Regions from separate parts of the Homo sapiens genome. Here region 1 is linked to region 2. The links come from fine-mapping of genetic effects on gene expression. Tissue or cell type: monocytes. Region 2 holds a variant in brackets; the other region holds the start of a gene. All regions are shown on one strand. Distances are between the middles of the regions.

Region 1 (5,387 bases), 51 kb before region 2:
CATTTGAGTTAATAAATATGCTAATAATCAAATATCCTGATTTTGTCACTATACATTGTATACATGTATTGATATATCACTCCGTACATATATATCACTCTGTATATATAGATCACATAAATATGCACAGTTATTCCATGTCAACTAAAAAGGGAAAAAATCCTTCCTTACAAAGATCACTGTTTGGTAAGCAGTTTAATTCACTGTAATAAAAGCATCTCACAATGCGAAAAAAAGTGGGGGGCGTATTTGGAGGTAATGAGAAGCTAACTGCTGTTTGCTATCATAGGAGAAAATATGAATCTGGACAGTGGCAGTGGAAATTGAGAGGAGGGAAAGGGATGAAGGGGTACTAAGTTTTCTCTAGACCTCAGTCCTTGCTATCTACTAAAAAAACCTATTCTTCACATTTTTCTCTATCTCACATTTATTATTCATTAATATTTCAGAAGTAATATGTTGGGACTAATATTAATGTATTAATACTTTGTGGCAGGCTCTGTAATAGTGTTTAATATGCTTCACCTATTTTAATTTTCACCTTTTTTTTTTTTTTTAGAAAAGCTTACTTTATAATAAGGAATCTGAGACCCAGAGTTGAAGCAAATTGCCCAAGGTTACACAGCTGGTCAGTAGCAGACACAAGATCCAAACCCGGTTTGTCTGAATCCAGTGCTGACGTCCTTGTGCCTCACCTATCCGCCACCGCCAAACTGCTTCCTGTTCTTCCAGTTGTCACTATCCTTGACTCATTGCACTTTGACCTCAATCAATCTTCTTATCTTTTCTTAAAAGAAAAACATGTTTGCTGTCTAATCTTTTCAACTATTATCCAGTCCATTTCTCTTTCCATGTAACCTTGGTCTTCAGTCCATGACAATATCTATCTTCTCACAGATCATTTCAGCTGTTCAGTTTTTGTGCCTTCTAAATTTACTCACACTAAATATTGTCCTGAAAAATTCAAAATATTTCTCCATCCTTTATTCCCTGGTGCTCACCTGAGTATTTTGCATTATTAACTACTTCTTTCTTCTTGAAAGTATTTCTCCCACAAGAGCTGCAAACCTGTGTTCTCCCAGCATGTTGCCATTTTACCCCAGCAGTTCCTTTTCTGTCTTTTTTGCCAGTTCCTTCATCAGAAACTTCTATGTTCTGTGCATGCCATTAGAGGAGCTGAAGTTTTGTTTGGTTCCTTGTTTTCTTTTTGTCTTCTACTATTATTCCCTTTCAATATGACCCCTCAATTTACTCTTCATATTACAATTTTAATTATCATCCTAGAGTACAAATATCTATTTTCCTGTTTTAATTTCTCAAGATTTTGTCAAGACCTAATTTCAAATTAATGTTAAAGACATTTGCTTAGCGGCTTACCAACAACGCGACAAGACACATTTTACACAGTCTCCTCATACACTCCTTCCCTGCTGAGCCAGCCACCTTTCCCAGTAAAGAAGGTAAAGAAGATATAAAAATGATTCATTCTGCTGTTAGTGTCAGTCTTTTGCTCAACTCCCATTTCCCCCAAGTATTTAGATTTTTTTTTTCTTTAAGAAAATAAATGCCAGCTGGGCATAGTGGCTCATGCCTGTAATCTTAGCACTCTTTGGGAGTCCAAGGTGGGAGGGTCGCTTGAGCCCTGGAGATTGAGGTTGCAGCGAGCTGGGATTATGCCACTGCATTCTAGCCAAACAGACAGAGCGAGATCTTGTCTCAAGATTAAAAAAAAAAAAAAAAAAAAAAAGCCAACCACTTACGTTTACAGAATTAAAATTGCAGCCTGCCGCTGACAACCTGAGAAAAAGAGACAAAGTCAGTGGAATAGCCCTTGTTATTTATGCAAGTCCGCATACAGCTAGCCCTGGAGTTCCTGGAGAGCAAGGAACCTCTGTCCCAAACTTGACTCAGAGCTTCCAAAGTTGGTGTATTTCAACAAGTAAGCATTCCATTGAGCCAACAATTTGGTAGGCTACCAGCGGCTCTGGAGCGCCTGTTGATGATGACAGTTTTTGTGGGGGCATCTCAATATGACACACAATTGACACTGACCAGAAACACAGCGCCAAGGACACTCTAGTCCTAGCCATGAAATGTTATGATTCCAGGTTTTCAGGACAGAGCAGAGTCCACTTCTCATCTCCAGTATCCGTAAAAATTTGTCCAAAATGTAACTAAGAAAACACAATGATATTAGTTACTTCTGCTCCCCGTCACCCTCAACCCCACTGATTACGAGATGGGAACTCACACAAAACTTTGAGACAAAAGAGCAACAAGTTTGCTTTATTGTTTGCTTGTTTTGTTCCGGAGTCGGGGCCGGGAGGGAGTGCAGGAGGAGGGATCCAAGCTTCCAAGCCTCTGCTCCGCTCTCCTTCTATCCAGTTGGTCTTTAGGGCACTGAAGGAAACTCTTCTTCAGAAATAACCTTTTAACTTTTCTTCTGTCAGCTGCCTGCCAATCACGGAGCCAGAGGCTGAGGGGAGGCTTTGAGCCGGTCTGCGAGTCCGGAAGGCAAAGATCGCGAAGCTTGGCGCTCCAGAACGCTCAGGGGGCAGGTGACACAGTCGTGGGTTCCCCGGCGGGCGCTGGCTTGACAGTTTCCTCCCCGCCCACTGGCAGGGGAGCGCCCCGCCGGGCTGCACGCGCGCGCGCGCAGGGGGGCATAAAAGCCGCGGCCGCGCGGAGACGCGGAGCTCGCCCACCGCCCGCCCCAGCAGTGGCTGCACCATGCACGTGAACGGCAAAGTGGCGCTGGTGACCGGCGCGGCTCAGGGCATAGGCAGAGCCTTTGCAGAGGCGCTGCTGCTTAAGGGCGCCAAGGTAAGCCCGGCGCCCAGCCGCGGAAATTTCTCTGCCCACACACTCCGAGACTCGCCCCGCCGCCCGAGGTGCACTGGCGGAGACAGGGAGGCCGCGCCCGGCGTGCCCACTTTGCCACTTCCAAAATTTGCTGAAGCTGAGGCTGTGAGCACACCTCAGAAGTGGCTGGGAGGGAACCCAAACCTAATTGCCAAATTTCAGGTCCAGGAGGGGAGCCTCTTGTGTGTTTATTGTTTGTCCGTCTATTTCGTGAGCTGCGCAGGCCCGCGATTCCTCTCCTCTTGTCTATAGGTAGCGCTGGTGGATTGGAATCTTGAAGCAGGTGTACAGTGTAAAGCTGCCCTGGATGAGCAGTTTGAACCTCAGAAGACTCTGTTCATCCAGTGCGATGTGGCTGACCAGCAACAACTGAGAGGTAAGACAGGGGAATCAATCTGTCAACTGGGAACGTGCTCTCAACAAGCAACAACCTGAAGGCAGCCCGGCCAGGGGGCCCTGGGTGCCGCCTCCGCTGCCTCCTCGAGAGCAGCTACCTTGAAGCTCCAAAAGACAGTTTGGACTGATACGTTTCCTTCTGACAGCCCAATAGCTGTAAAACCGAAAGAAAGGCAAGACTGCTGGAGAAATCCTTTTATTGTAGTCATTTGGCAGCATTAATGTAATCAAAATTCCTTTATGTATTCAAAGACAGTGCTGCTGCAGTAATTATTAAATGATTGAAATTGCAGACAAAACTTGGAAAATTAAAGTAGGTTAAGTAAGGTACTGTTGACAAACAACTTCTCCCAGAAAGCTGGAGTCCAATGACAATCAAATGTGGCAGTGTTTTTCGTTTAAACATATCAGAATACAAGTTCAAGGAGCATCATCACAGAAGTGCTAGATGCTTTTGACCATATGTTTTCTCCGGCTTTTTCCCCAATGAGACAGTACTTTAAAATAATAATAATAGTAATCATAATAAAGTATACAATGTTAGAATTGTAGTAGAAACATCTCTATCAGCCTTTCCTCAATGCTTTCCTGTTTCCGGCTACTCACTTAAAATAGACCAATCTACTTGTGAAGTATCAGGGACAATATTGGCATACACAATAAACAGCTTTGATTATAAAGCTGTTTTTTTTTTTTTTGTACATCTATTGGAGAACTTGAGAGTGCCCCAATAAACTTACAGGAAACAAAAATTCTGGAGAAAAACTAGAAAAGTAAAATATTTGTATTTCACAAAGTTTTATTCAAAGAGACTGAGTAAATTGTAAGGCACTTTTTAATCAAGGGGTCTGAAAACTTTTGCAAATCTTATTCCAGTGCTCCTGTTCTTAAAGGGACATCAAATGTACATTTATTTTAAAATTTTAAAATATTCTGTAAGAGAATGAAAATGAACTGACGTGTTAGAAGGAAGTGGTGTACCAACAGTTAAGAGAAATTGTAAAGGAAATTACATAACTGAAATCTGAAAATGCTAATAAAGACCTATAACACAGATGACAAGCATGAGCAGAACAGATTTGTAAACACAATGCAAGAGGAACATATTGTACCAGAGGACAATTATGTTGATTGCACATGATATTTTGGATCAAGGATAGAGCCAGGTCAGATCTCAACATTCATGCTGATGGCATAAGGAACAGTATAAACAATCTGAAAGCCATTTCTGTCTCAATTTATATAGTTTCATAAATGACATTTAACTACAATTGTTTTTTTCCCAGTATTTAAAATTAATACCTTGGCTATAAACTCATTCCTTAAGGATAAATGATTGTGGAGGAGGAAAAATACTCAGACACATAAGTGACCCGGGAAGGCATGTTGGTCATGAGAAATCCACATGTTGTCTGGACATGAGCATTTGCTTGCATCTAAAGGAAACATGACATTGATTCTTCCAGTTTCAGGATTTAATGTTGCCTATAACTTTTAAAATTGTTTAGACAGTGTGGAAATTATAAAAATATGAGATGAAAAGTTTCTTGGAGATAATCTAAACATAACTTATTTTCCAAATGAACAAATCACAGCCAAGAGAGTTTAGGTAAGTTACAAAGAGTACCATAGCATATAAATGTCAGCAAGAGGTAGACTGTCTGTTGCTTGAGCCTGGAATTCAATGGGATGTCAGAAAACAAGATGGTATACTATACATTGGTAAGGGCAGAGTATAAGGAATACGGTGGAGAACAGAATGAGGAAAGAAAATTAAAGCGGCAATTAGACATACATATTTAACACCCTCATTTTCCAAAAGGTGAAGGTTGTTTCTGTGGAGTTATGAAGAGTTAGAACATACTCAGAATGGAAGGAGAAAAAAAAAATACTGGGGGACATTTTCTGGACCCAATTTGAGATTTTAAGAAACATTTTTAAGATTCCATGAAAAAAGGCCGGGTGCAGTGGCTTCACGCTTGTAATCCCAGCAGTTTGGGAGGCCGAGGCGGGCGGATCACGAGGTCAGGAGATCGAGACTTTCACTCGCGTCTGTGTGAAGAGACCACCAAACAGGCTTTGTGTGAGCAACAAGGCTGTTTATTTCACCTGGGTGCAGGCTGGCTGAG
Region 2 (5,387 bases):
ATCAGTAGGAGGCTCTCAAGAGACTTGAGATCTAGAGAAAAGCGAGATCAAGATATTTTTCCTTGACTTCATTCCTGGTTTGGTTATCTCAGCATCTATCAGGCAGTCATTTGCACAGCTACTCACATTGTGTTCTAGTTATCATTCCCCCCTTTGCTCCTCCGGGTCCAGAAGTGGTAACACCTCCCTGCAGTTACTAGTCCCAGGGTCCTGTGCTATTTCTGCTATTTCCCTGAGTCCTGCAGATAACTTTATAAATAATTGTTTTAATAAATTAACTTAAAATTGCCCAGTTTGAGAGTGCCATTTGTTTCTTACTGAAATCAATACCAATAGATTAGAATTTATCAAATGACTATTAACTACAGCTGTTACTTTTTTTTTATTTTGCTCAGAAATACCCTGTTGATGGGGTCAAAATTAGATGAAACTAGAGTAAAACATCTCACACTATTAGCAAAGAAAGGTGAATTATGAATAAATAATTTCAAGAATAAAAATGGGTCATACAGACAATAAAAAAAGTTCAATTATTTTATTAAATTTATGAGTCAATTTGATTATTTATATAAAATAAGCAAATACCTAGAAGTAAACAATTTACCAAAACCGACACAAGGAGAAACAGAAAAATTGGATTAGTCAGATAACTACTAAAGAGATTGCAAACTCATCAATTTATTTAATTTATAATTAAAAACCTTCTCATAAAGAACATTCCTTGTCCAGATGGTTGTTTCAGTGGTGAATTCTACCAAATATTTAAAGATGAAACAATTCCAAATTTACTCTGGCTCTCCCAGAGTACAGAGAAAGAGACCACTGCCAACTTATAACTGTGATTTCAAAAACTGAAAAGGCATTATTACAAAGGAAAAAAAAAGGTATAGGCCAATCTCACTTTTGCCATAATGAACATAAATATAAAATTCCTAAATAAATTGGAAAAAGAAGTTCTTTTATATCAAAAATAAGAAAAAGTCATAAACAAGTGGAGTTATAGTAATTGAATTTGGTCTCACACTCAAATTTAATCAGTGAAAATTATCATATTAACAGACTACAGAAGAAAAATTGTATGATCATATCAATATATGTAGAAAAAGCTTTTGGATGTTGATAAGATTCAACATACATTTTCAAAAACAACAACAAAAGTATTAAAAACTAATAATAGAAGGGAGATTTCTTAGTCTCATATAGAACATCCACCAAAAAACATATTGCAATCATCATACTTACTGGTGAAATCCAGTACAATCAGGCAGTGAAAGGAAAATGCAGTGTAAACATTGGGAACAAAACTATCAATGTATAAAAGTTTTTAAAACTTCTAATAAATTATTAGCAAGAATCAGCAAGTAGGTAGAATACAAAGAAATGGCCCAGCGTTTCATTTCAGGCTCCAAAAAGGCTGTATTTCACACACACACAAAAAGGCAAACCAGAAATAGAGAGCAGGCCTTACAAAAATGAAAACCTAGGCTCAAATGAGCTTCATCTTAATCAGATTTAGCTGACAGGCTACTACTTTACCTATCCACCATCAGCTAATGAACCCCTCTCTGAAGAAAAATTATAAGCCAGAGCATATACAATTCTTCATACAATTTCTAGCATTTAATTAAGAATTAGCAGACACATAAAGAGACAGGAAAAAAATAATAATTAAATGAAAAAAAAAAAAAGACAGCCCCTACGGGATTGATACAGGAATTATCAAAAACAGATTTTAAAATCATTGTGATTGATATGTTCAAAAATTAGAAGAAAAGATTGGGAATTTTTCCAAAAAACTAGAAACAATGAAGAACAGTTTTAGAAATGAAAAAAAAAATTGAAATTAAGAAAACAATAGAATAAGAGATTCAACACAGCTTGAGAGAGGATTTGCGACTCTGATTTCCGAATAGAAAATAGGCCAGTAGAAAATATTTAGATTGAAACAAAAAGAGAAAGGGGAATGGAAAAATACAGAAAAGAGAATAAGAGAGATATGGACTTTAAAAACAGTCTAACAAGCCGGGCGTGGTGGCTCACGCCTGTAATCCCAGCATTTTAGGAGGCCAAGGCAGGTGGATCATCTGAGGTCAGAAGTTTGAGACTAGCCCGGCCAACAAGGTGAAACCCTGTCTCCACAAAAAAAGGCTGAGGAAGGAGAAGTGCTTGAACCTGGGAGGCGGAGGTTGTAGTGAGCCACGATCGTGCAGCTGCACTCCAGCCTGGGAAACAAAGTGAGACTCCATCTCAAAAAAACAAAAAACTGAAAAAAACAACAAAAAAAACCCAAAACAGTCTAACATAGGTGTAATTAGAGACCTACCAAAAAAAAAAAAAAAAAA[AG/G]GAAATTAAAGCAGAAGCATTATTTGTAACTAATATTCAACAAATGTTCAAAAGTAATCAGATTTTAAGCTGCTGATTCAAGAAGCAATACAAATGGCAAGAAGAAGAAAAAGAGCACACCAAATAGAAGTAAAAGCCAGTGACCAGAAGAAATCTTAAAACCTGCCAAGGGGAGCAGGGGGAGGCAAACTGTCTATACAAGAAGCAAAAATAAAATTGATCGCTAATTTCTTAGCAGAAACTACATAAATCAGAACACAATGAAAACTATCTTAAGGTTCCAAACAAATAAAAACTGAATGTAAGTTCTATATTGAGTTAAGAAAAATCTTATAAAATCAAAGAGGGTGTGTTAATGGCATTTCCAGGAAAAAAGAAAATCAGAAAATTCATCATAAATAGATTCAGATTCAAAGGAATACAAGTAAAGAATTTTTCAGGAGGGGAAAAGAATCTTCCAGATGAAGGAAGAGAAATTCAGGGTAATTTGAAGGGTAATGGAAAAGGAGTGAGGAAATCAAAATGAATATTTACTATATTAAGTCAGGAAAATAATGACTTCTAGTATTTAAAACATATGTAGAATTAAAATACAAAAAAGCATGAAAGGCAGGTGAGATCAAACAGAGTTAAAGTGTTCTAAGGTGTTTGTGTTTTCAAAGATCTGGTTAAAAAAAACCACAGTGGCTCACCCCTGTAATTCCAGCACTCTGGGAGGCCAAGGTAGGTGGATCACCTGAGGTCAGAAGTTTGAGACCAGCCTGATCGACATGGTGAAACCTCGTCTCTACTAAAAATACATAAATTAGCTGGACACAGTGGCATGCACCTGTAATCCCAGCTACTGAGGTGGCTGAGGCAGTAGAATTGCTTGAACCTGGGAGGCAGACGTTGCAGTGAGCGGAGATTGCACCACTGCACTTTAGCCTAGGCAACAAAGTGAGACTGTCAAAAAAAAAAAACACTAATTAAAATTAAAATTAGATATTAGTAGGTCAAGAAAGCCTAATGTAATACAGAAGGTAAATAATGTAAAACTAATAAGGTAATTTAGAAGAGAGTTAAATAATAATATTTAATTGATGAGTCCAAGGGAGGAAATAAAGCAAAGAGTATATAATGAGTAGACCCAATAGAAAACAAATACGGTTGACCCTTGAACGAAAACGGTTTGAACTGCATGGGCACACTCACACAGGGATTTTTTTCAATAAAAGTTACACTGGGTGTGCCTGCATCTCCTGCTCCCCTTCCACCTCCTCCATCTCTTCCACCTCTGCCACCCCTGAGACAGCAAGACCAGTCCCTCCTCTTCCTCCTCCTCCTCAGCCTACTCAACATGAAGATGAAGAGGCTGAAGACCTTGTGATGATCCACTTCCACTTAATGAATAGTAAATATATTTCTCTTCCTTAGGATTTTCTTAACATTTTCTTTTCTCTAACTTACTTTATTGCAAGAATACAGTGTATAATACATACAATATACAAAGTATGTGTTGACTATTTGTTATCAAGAAGGCTTTTGGTCAACAGTAGGCTATTGGTAGTTAAATTAGCCGGGAGTCAAAAGTGTTATGTGGATTTTCAACCTTGCCTCAGGGAGTCAGTGCCCCAGTCCCTCATTGATCAAGAGTCAACAGCAGTTGCATCAAGGATCACATTGAAGGTCAGATCGTCCCACACTCTTCTTTACTACCCTCCAGTGGTTTCTGGTTGCAAATAAGATCAAATACTCCATCTCTGATTTCACCTATTTTCACCCCCCTCCTTCCTGACTTCACTCTAGCTTCACTAGCTTCTCTGCACCTTGAATGTACCAAGCATCTGCCCTTTAGGAACTTTGCACTCACTCTTCACTCTGTCTAGATGGCTCTTTTCCATATATTTCCAAGAATAGCCTGACTCTAATATTATGTCCTTCAAATGGCATCCCACGTCCTCCACTCTAAATTAATCAGTTAGTTATCCCATTCTAGGTTATCACACCACCCTTATTTTGTTTTCAGCTTCATAGCACTGATCCTCTGAATTTATGTTAGTCGTTTTTTTCTTCATTATGTTTTTTTCTACTCTACCATAACATAAGCTCTATAAAAACAAAGACCTTACTTGTTTCTGTTCTTTACCTAATCACAGCATATAAAACAGTGCGTGGAATACGGTGTGCATCAAGTAAATATTTACTGAATGGATGAATGAAGTGTCTAATGAAGTGGGTAAGGCACACTAGGCTGTCTTAAAAGAAATATAAATTTCCCAAACATGGAAGTTTATATGTTCATTCTTTTATTGATTAGATGATTTCTGGGATACTGTATTTGAGTCTAAGTATCACATTTTAGAGGCTTTTGCCAGTCTGGAGTTTGGATTTTATCGTAACGACAACAGGAGAAAAACACACAAAACTACAAATATTTGAAATTGTCATAAGGAAATAGAATAGATAGTTGCCTCCTGTAAACAGAACTATGAATGAGTAAAGGTGAAAGGGATGTAGTTGAAGGTACCTTCAGAATTAAGATACTCCAAATGAAATGCCTTTGTAGTTTTCATTGACAGAAAAAATTGCTGTGATTGAGATGACTGAGGCCGATGCCAGCTAGTCACATATTAGAGATTCTATATACAACATATCTGTAAAAGTGAGAAGTTGGACCGAATGACCTTGAGAGCTCCTTAAACTTTGTTTCTATTCTACAGTGCTATATAATGTCATCACAGTTCAGTTTACACAAAGTAAATACAACTCATAGTAATATTTCCTTAATCATAAAGGATCATTATGGTATTCTCTCCCTATTTTGATTTCTTTCTAATTTTTTCTAACATTTGGTTTCTCCATTCCATTTACTATCTGAAGAATTTTGGTAGGAATGCTTCCAGAACCATATGGCCCTAGTTTGCTATTTCTGCTGTTGCCCCAACCTAATGCCGCCTGGGTGCCTCCCTGCAGCCTCTGATTCACGGTAGCCACCTAACGTTGGATAAATCCAACGTTCATGTTATCTAGATGTTGTGGCAAAATGTTAGTTCATTAATGTC

What was found.
Region 1: it holds the start of HPGD, and the variant in region 2 is fine-mapped to the expression of HPGD in monocytes (Schmiedel 2018, PIP 0.95).

What each region holds. Positions count from the first base shown.
Region 1 is chr4:174,519,795-174,525,181 of GRCh38, reverse strand. HPGD (15-hydroxyprostaglandin dehydrogenase) reads left to right here and starts at 2,694. Exons shown (of 7, transcript NM_000860.6): 1 at 2,694-2,823; 2 at 3,115-3,238. The coding sequence starts at 2,731. LOC105377548 (a long non-coding RNA gene) reads right to left here and starts at 2,569. Exons shown (of 7, transcript XR_007058492.1): 1 at 2,053-2,569; 2 at 1,761-1,797. RefSeq lists an enhancer at 5,355-5,387.
Region 2 is chr4:174,468,525-174,473,911 of GRCh38, reverse strand. No RefSeq gene overlaps it. Among named protein-coding and RNA genes, the nearest start is that of MIR4276, 47 kb to the right of the region's middle. The variant AG/G (reference allele first, on the strand shown) is at 2,343.